Linked DNA regions of Homo sapiens. The protein of the gene in region 2 purifies or fractionates together with the protein of the main gene of each other region. This does not show direct contact. Each region holds a gene or a part of one and is shown on either strand. Other genes may lie near its edges.

The links. Proteins that work in one complex are often made in the same cells at the same time.
Region 1: the proteins of ANKRD27 (region 2) and TBC1D4 purify together in Homo sapiens (affinity purification with mass spectrometry; one large-scale study listed by BioGRID and IntAct). This does not show direct contact.

Annotation. Positions count from the first base shown.
Region 1 is NC_000013.11:75,475,670-75,479,169, forward strand, and holds part of TBC1D4 (TBC1 domain family member 4), read right to left. Parts: intron 1-3,500.
Region 2 is NC_000019.10:32,602,181-32,605,680, forward strand, and holds part of ANKRD27 (ankyrin repeat domain-containing protein 27), read right to left. Parts: intron 2,245-3,500; coding exon 2,083-2,244; intron 1-2,082. UniProt on the Homo sapiens protein: May be a guanine exchange factor (GEF) for Rab21, Rab32 and Rab38 and regulate endosome dynamics.

The sequences.
Region 1 (3,500 bases), on a different chromosome or scaffold from region 2:
TTCCTCACCAAGCAATTACTCATTCCAAAATGAGAAAAGGGCATGTGAACAGTCTCTGCCTTACTGAATGGTGTTATTTCTCAGGCTGTAAATCAAGCTTTAATTTTTTCAAAAACTATCATAATCTGAAATTAGGATATATGGGTTGCGTATCACTTATCCAACATACTTGGGAACAGAAGTGTTTCAGATTTTGAATTTTTTTTTCAGATTTTGGAATATTTGCATATACATAATGAGATATCTTAAGGATGAGACCCAAGTCTAAGTATAAAATTCATTTATGTTTCTGGCTGGGTGCAGAGGCTCATACCTGTAATCCCAGCACTTTGGGAGGCCCAGGCGGGCAGATCACTTGAGGTCAGGAGTTTGAGACCAGCCTGGCCAATATGGTGAAACCCCGTCTCTACTAAAAATACAAAAATTAGCTGGGCGTGGTGGTGCACTCCTATAATCCCAGCTACTTGGGTGGCTGAGGCAGGAGAATCACTTGAACCTGAGAGGTGGAGGTTGCAGTGAGCCGAGATCGCGCCACTGCACTCCAGCCTGGGCGACAGTGCGAGACTCCACCTCAAAAAAATAAACAACAACAACAAAAAAACTTCATTTGTGTTTCTATACACCTTATACACATAGCCTCAAGGTAATTTTATACAATATGTTTAATAATTTTGTGTGTTTTGACTGTGATCTCATGAAATCAGGTGAAGAATTTTCCACCTGTAGTGTCATGTTGATGCTCAAAACGTTTCTGACGTTAAAACACTTTGGACTTCAGATTTTTAGGTTATCTGTATTCCCCTCAAAATGAACTGTTTATTCCACCTGCAGAACTTAAAACTTTTGGCTGAAAGGCAAAGTTTTCATTCAACATTTGCATGGTCTTATGATGTCTGGCAGAATAATGTCTATATCAGGGAAAGGACAGGCAAATCATTAAGCTAGAAGATGAAGAGCTTCTTAAAAATATTCCAGAGTCAAATATTATTTCTCCTCACATTCCACTTGAACTTTCAAGTCTGAGAAAGACTACAAAAATATCCAGGGGAACAGAAATGGTCATACAGCCAACCAAATGAACCAAATAACTTAGCACAGGGTTTCTAAAACTGTGGTCACCCGGCCAGTAGTTTGAGCATCACCAGAGAACTTGTTAAATCAGAAATTGAGGGTAGGGTCCAGTGGTCTCTTTTAAGAAGCCCTCTAGGTAATTCTGACACACACACTGAAGTTTGAGAATCTCTGGTTTCTGATAATCAAGCCCTGACACTGAACACCTTCAATTTTCAGCTTAGGGCTCCTATCATAATGTGCTCCATTGTGGCTGGGAGTCTCTGGGCTATGTTTGTGCCTTTCCGCCAGATATTGCAGTCAAGATTCTACCACAGAGCCAAGGCAAATTAACCTCCACTTCAGACTGCAAGGAGGAGAGAGAATAAAAAATGATTACAAAAAAAGAGATAGATCTATCTGTCCACAGAACAAACTTCTTAGAAAGCACAGAGAGGTGAAATCTTCCAGGTTTCAATTTCTCTGGTATTCTTACTAGTATATTCTCAAAGCTACTAACCATCAACTTTGAAAAAGAACTGAAAAATGACCTTCTAAAAATATATTGACAAAAAAACTGGTTACGTGAATAAAGCTCAGATAGTAATACACGTTTTTAAGAGAACTGAGAGTTGGGAAAACACTGGCATTAAATTCCTTTTTTTAATCTTAAGAACACAATTTGTAAAGTCTCTTTAAAATCATTCTTGCAAGCTTCAGTAAATAATACACAAAAACAACCAATAAACATTATAACAATCATGTTTTTACCTTTTAAATGATTGTTCATCCTATAATTATAAAACATAATGATGCTTCAAAACTCACAGGCAAATGTTAATTAAAAATTAACATAACAAAGTCTCATATTTTCAATAACAACTCCTGCTTTATTTTTTATTGTAGTAATGTATGTATAACATAAAATAACTTTTTAACAGAAAAATTTGGGTAATGCCATACAGACTCTTTTTGCAAGTGGATAAATATTTACAGAGTATTAGTGACCTATCCTAGACCTTTGGGAGAGAATCAGATATTCTTGTTTCCCCAATCAGTTTAAGTCTGTAATTCACTTCATGCCAATGGGATTAAGCCCTTTTCCCAGTTCAAATATTCAAGTTTAGCTGAAATGTGCTAAGCCTGACATTCCTCCTGTATAAGACTACATAGGCTTGACTAGAGACAGATCTGCATTGGCATACATTTCACCCCCATCTCCATTTCTCTTTGCACCTTGGAGAAACAGTGGTGCATTGAGCCATTCTGGTTGAATGCTTCTCCTGACACACATCCTTAAATTGACTCTGACCCAAAGGGAGGTGTGGAGCCAAGAGGGAACACATCACTGTGGCAACTCCCCACAACAGACCCCCAAGCGATTAGTACAGCACTCCCAGCTCTAAGGTCAAATGTAGATCCAACTCCAATATGTGAGTAGATACTCTTGAAAACATTATCATTTTATATTAGTAACCACAATCCTCCAACTCGGTGGCTCTGCATGAACACAAACTTTGCCATGGTGACCATATATCTCGGTTTGTCCTCAACAGTCCAGGTTTATTACTCACAGTGCTTGTATAATTATTAGTGGTGCCCCTTTTGACAATAAAATTGTCCCATATCAAACAATAAAGTATACGGTCATCCAACAGATAGGGCCATTGCATTAAAGGAATAGGCATGACAGACAAACCACAGACAAGTATGTTAGGGGATGTTTGCAGGTCTACTGCTCTAGGCTACGTTTGTAGACTTTATAGACTCTGTCGAGGACTGAGGGAAACACTTAGGAGACTCTCTTAACAATGATCTTAAGTCCAAATAAATAATTCTCCACTTCAAATATAGAACTCAGAACAAAGCAAACAGCAGGTCTTCCTTCTGATTTCAAGGGTCCCTAGAACTATCCACAGCCAACTCTGCATGAAGCATACTGCTGGATGATAATATGTTGAACTGACCCCTTTAACATGTCTAGCTGCAGAATCAACACTTCTGGGAATTTTTCTGCTAAATTCTTCAAAAAGGATGGTCCCAGCTTCCCCTACTATGACAGCCATATCAAATGAACCTGGATGCTCTAAAGGAAATACAGCAAACAGCACATAGTGTCAATGACTGCGCTTGTCCACTCAACAAATATTTATGCCAAAGATCAAAAGTGGCCGCTCATGGATCTCTAAAGCCATCTCTCAGATGTGTATTGTTTGGCCCAGATAGGATTCTTAAATGTTTACAATATTTGCCAGTACTTTAAAATGCGGGGTCATATATAAAAATTCAGATTTCCACTCTCTCTTGGGAAATCAGCAGCTCTAGCAACGCTAGACTTGCATCCTATTCATGCAATTTCCAAGTGGAGCTAAGTAGCACCTTGAGAAAGGCCACCCACTATCCAGTCCTCCATGGTCCTCACTCAACCCTCTTCTTTGTTATTTGAGTTT
Region 2 (3,500 bases):
TATTATTTGTTTTTGATCTAAATGTCAGTATTAGTGTGACTGGGCAGAAAAAGCTCAGAAATAATTACAAATGGAGCTTGGAGGCCATAAAGCCCAGTGGTAAAAGCAGGCCTGCATGGGGAGCCCGGCTCTGCTTTTACCACTGGGTAAAAGCTCTGCCCTCTCTGTGGACTCCACGCTGGGGATTCAACCACTCCATGCAACCAGCTCAACCATAATAAGATCTACTATCATATGCTTATCATGAGGCTGTTGAGGGCCCCCATATAGTAAGTACTCATTGAAACACATTAATTAACTGGGCACGGTGGCTCACGCGTGCAATCCCACCACTTTGGGAGACTGAGGTGGGAGGATTGCTTGAGCCCAGGTGTTCAAGACTAGCCTGGGCAACATAGCAAGGCCCTGTCTCTATTTAAAAATAATAAAAGGCCAGGCGCGATGGCTCACGCCTGTAATCTCAGCACTTTTGAGAGGCCGAGGCGGGTGGATTGCTTGAGCCCAGGCAGTCGAGACCAGCCTGGCCAACATGGCAAAACCCTGTCTCTATTAAAAAAAAATTAGCTGGTCATGGTGGCACACGCCTATAGTCCCAGCTACTTGGGAGGCTGAGGTTGGAGGATCATCTGCGCCCAAAGGTTAAGGCTGCAGTGAGCCAAGATTGCACCATTATACTCCAGCCTGGGCAACAAATTGAGACTCTGTCTCAAAAAATAATAATAATAATAAAATTAAAAATTTTAAAAACCAAAAAAAATTCAACATAATCATTTAAGAAAGTACTAAACTGAGAGTTTAAAATATTTCAATTCTGTCACTGAAAATTAATATAAGGAGGCCAGGCACAGTGGCTCACGTCTGTAATCCCAGCACTTCGGGATGCCAAGGGAGGCGGATCAGTTAGGTCAGGTGTTCAAGACCAGCCTGAGCAATATGGTGAAACCCGTCTCTACAAAAAATACAAAAATTTAGCCAGGTGTGGTGCCACGTGCCTGTAATCCCAGCTACTCAGGAGGCTGAGGCACGAGAATCGCTTGAACCCAGGAGGCAGAGGTTGCAGTGAGCCAAGATCACGCCACAACAGAGCAAGACTCTGTCTTAAGAAACAAAAAATTACTCTAAGGAGCCTGTCCATGGAGTGGATTGATGGTGATGTTAGCTTCTCAGTTGTGTCACTTAACAGCCTACTCGCTGTCTATCTTGGGTAGAAAACAAAAGAAAGACTCAGCAGGAAAACAGGAACAGAAAGAGCTGCCGCTCGCCAGGGGAAAAGGACCCTTCCCCGCCGCTCTCCACGCAAGCATCCACAGCACTGGAGAAGGCAGTAGGCCAATAATCACGATTCCTACAGGACTCAAGGACTTTTACTTTCATTTTTTTGAGATAAAGTCTCTGTCACCCAGGCTGGAGTGCAGTGGCACAATCTCAGCTCACTACAGCCTTGACCTCCTGGGCTCAAGCGATCCTCCCACCTCAGCCTCCTGAGTAGCTGGGACTACAGGCATGCACCCCTATGCTCGGCTGATTTTTTGATTTTTTGTAGAGAGGGGGTCTCACTATGTTGCCCAGGCTGGTCATGAGCTCCTGCGCTCAAGTGATCCTCCTTCCTTGGCCTCCCAAAGTGCTGGGATTACAGGCATGAGCCACTGTGCCTGGCCTCAAGGAGTTTTAAATCCACCAACAAAACAAACCTTCTCCATCGTGCTGCTAAGACAACGGCTGTGTTCACACTGTGAGGATGGTGACACCAGAACATCATGACTTGCTCCTTCCTGAGTGCCTGACTCTATGTAACTACCGGACCACAGCCCTACTGCTAGCTGAGGGGGGGGCCCCTCCACTCAGGCCTTTGAAAACCACCTGTGAAAAGAATGATTCCTGGTTCCCAGAGCACCACCTCTGACCAGGAGACTGAGGACCAGCCATCTACCCACGCTGTGGACTTCTGGCACACCAACTACGCCCAGCCCGGCGATGCCAAGGGCCAGGTGTTGCTATTTTAGATCCAGCTTAAACAAAGGGATCCAGAGGGAGCTGTGAGGAGCTCAGGATTCCCTCGGCTCTTCGACCCTCTCCACCTACCTGTTCAGCACAGTCTACAGCCGTGCGCTGCCGCTTGTTCAGCACCTGAACTGACGCTCCGTGGAGCAGAAGCAGCTCTACCACGAAGACGTGCTTTTCAATCACAGCCTCGTGCAGCGCTGTGTTGCCCTTATTGTTAGAAGCGTTAATGGAGGCCCCGTGCTGGAAAGAGAAACCACACGATCAAAAGGAACGCTACGAAACGTCAGCATGGAATCTGGCTGTGGGTATACAGGTATTCGCTATAAAACACATTGTTTTTTTTATGTCTGAAAGTTTCCTTAAAATTTGGGGAGGAAAAGTAATACTGAGAAAAAAAGATTTATAGACAAAGAGTTCGCTGCAGCATTTATCCTAATAGCAGAGAAAACAGAAGCCACTTAAATGTACAGAGCAGAAACAGGTTCAAAAAAATCACTATGGTATATCCATAGTTATGCAACCATTAAAAATCAAAGTTTGAGTAAATAAGTTTCTACATTAAATAACATTAAGACAGAAAACAATACTTGGGGCCAGGCACAGTGGCCCATGCCTATAATCCCAGCACTTTGGGAGGCAGAGGCAGGTGGATCACCTGAGGTCAGGAGTTCAAGACCAGCCTGGCCAACATAGTGAAATCCCATCTCTACTAAAAAAAAACACCAAAAAACAAAAAAATTAGCTGGGCATGGTGGTGGGCGCCTGTAGTTCCAGCTATTCGGGAGGCTGAGGCAGGAGAATCGCTTGAACCCCGGAGGCAGAGGTTGCAGTGAGCTGAGAGTAAGCCACTGCATTCCTAGGTGACAGAGCGAGACTCCATCTCGGAAAAAGAGAAAACAATACTTGGCGAGGCCCCGTGGCTTACACCCGTAATCCAGCACTTTAGGAGGCCAGTGCAAGAGGATCGTTGGAGCTCAGGAGTTTGAGACCAGCCTGGGCAACATAGTGAGACCCCCATCTCTACTAAAAACAAACAGCAAAAACTAGCCAGGTGCAGTGGTATGTATCTGTAGTCCCAGTTAGCTGGGAGGCTGAGGCACCTGAGCCTGGGAGACTGAGGCTGCAGTGAGCTGTGAGGGTGCCATTGCATTCCAGCCTGGGCCACAGAGCAAGACCTTGTCTCAAAAAAAAATTAATAAATAACACTGAAACTATACACATTTGTCAAAAGTCCACCATAATGAGTTTCCCTTGAGTAGCACAGTCATGGACAGGTTGGTTTTTCCCTACTTCTTTAAGAAATTCTAATGCATTCACATAACCTTTTTCAAGAGCAGCAGGGACAGAGGCGGCCACTCAGCCCATGCTCAGGTAACAGCGTGACACATTCCCGGTCGGTGAGGTGAGACCCAAACCCTTGGCAAAAGCAGCGTCGGAGCCCTTGAGACCGCATCCCAGATGCTGGGGCACCATCTGTTCCCATCGGAGAACCCCGT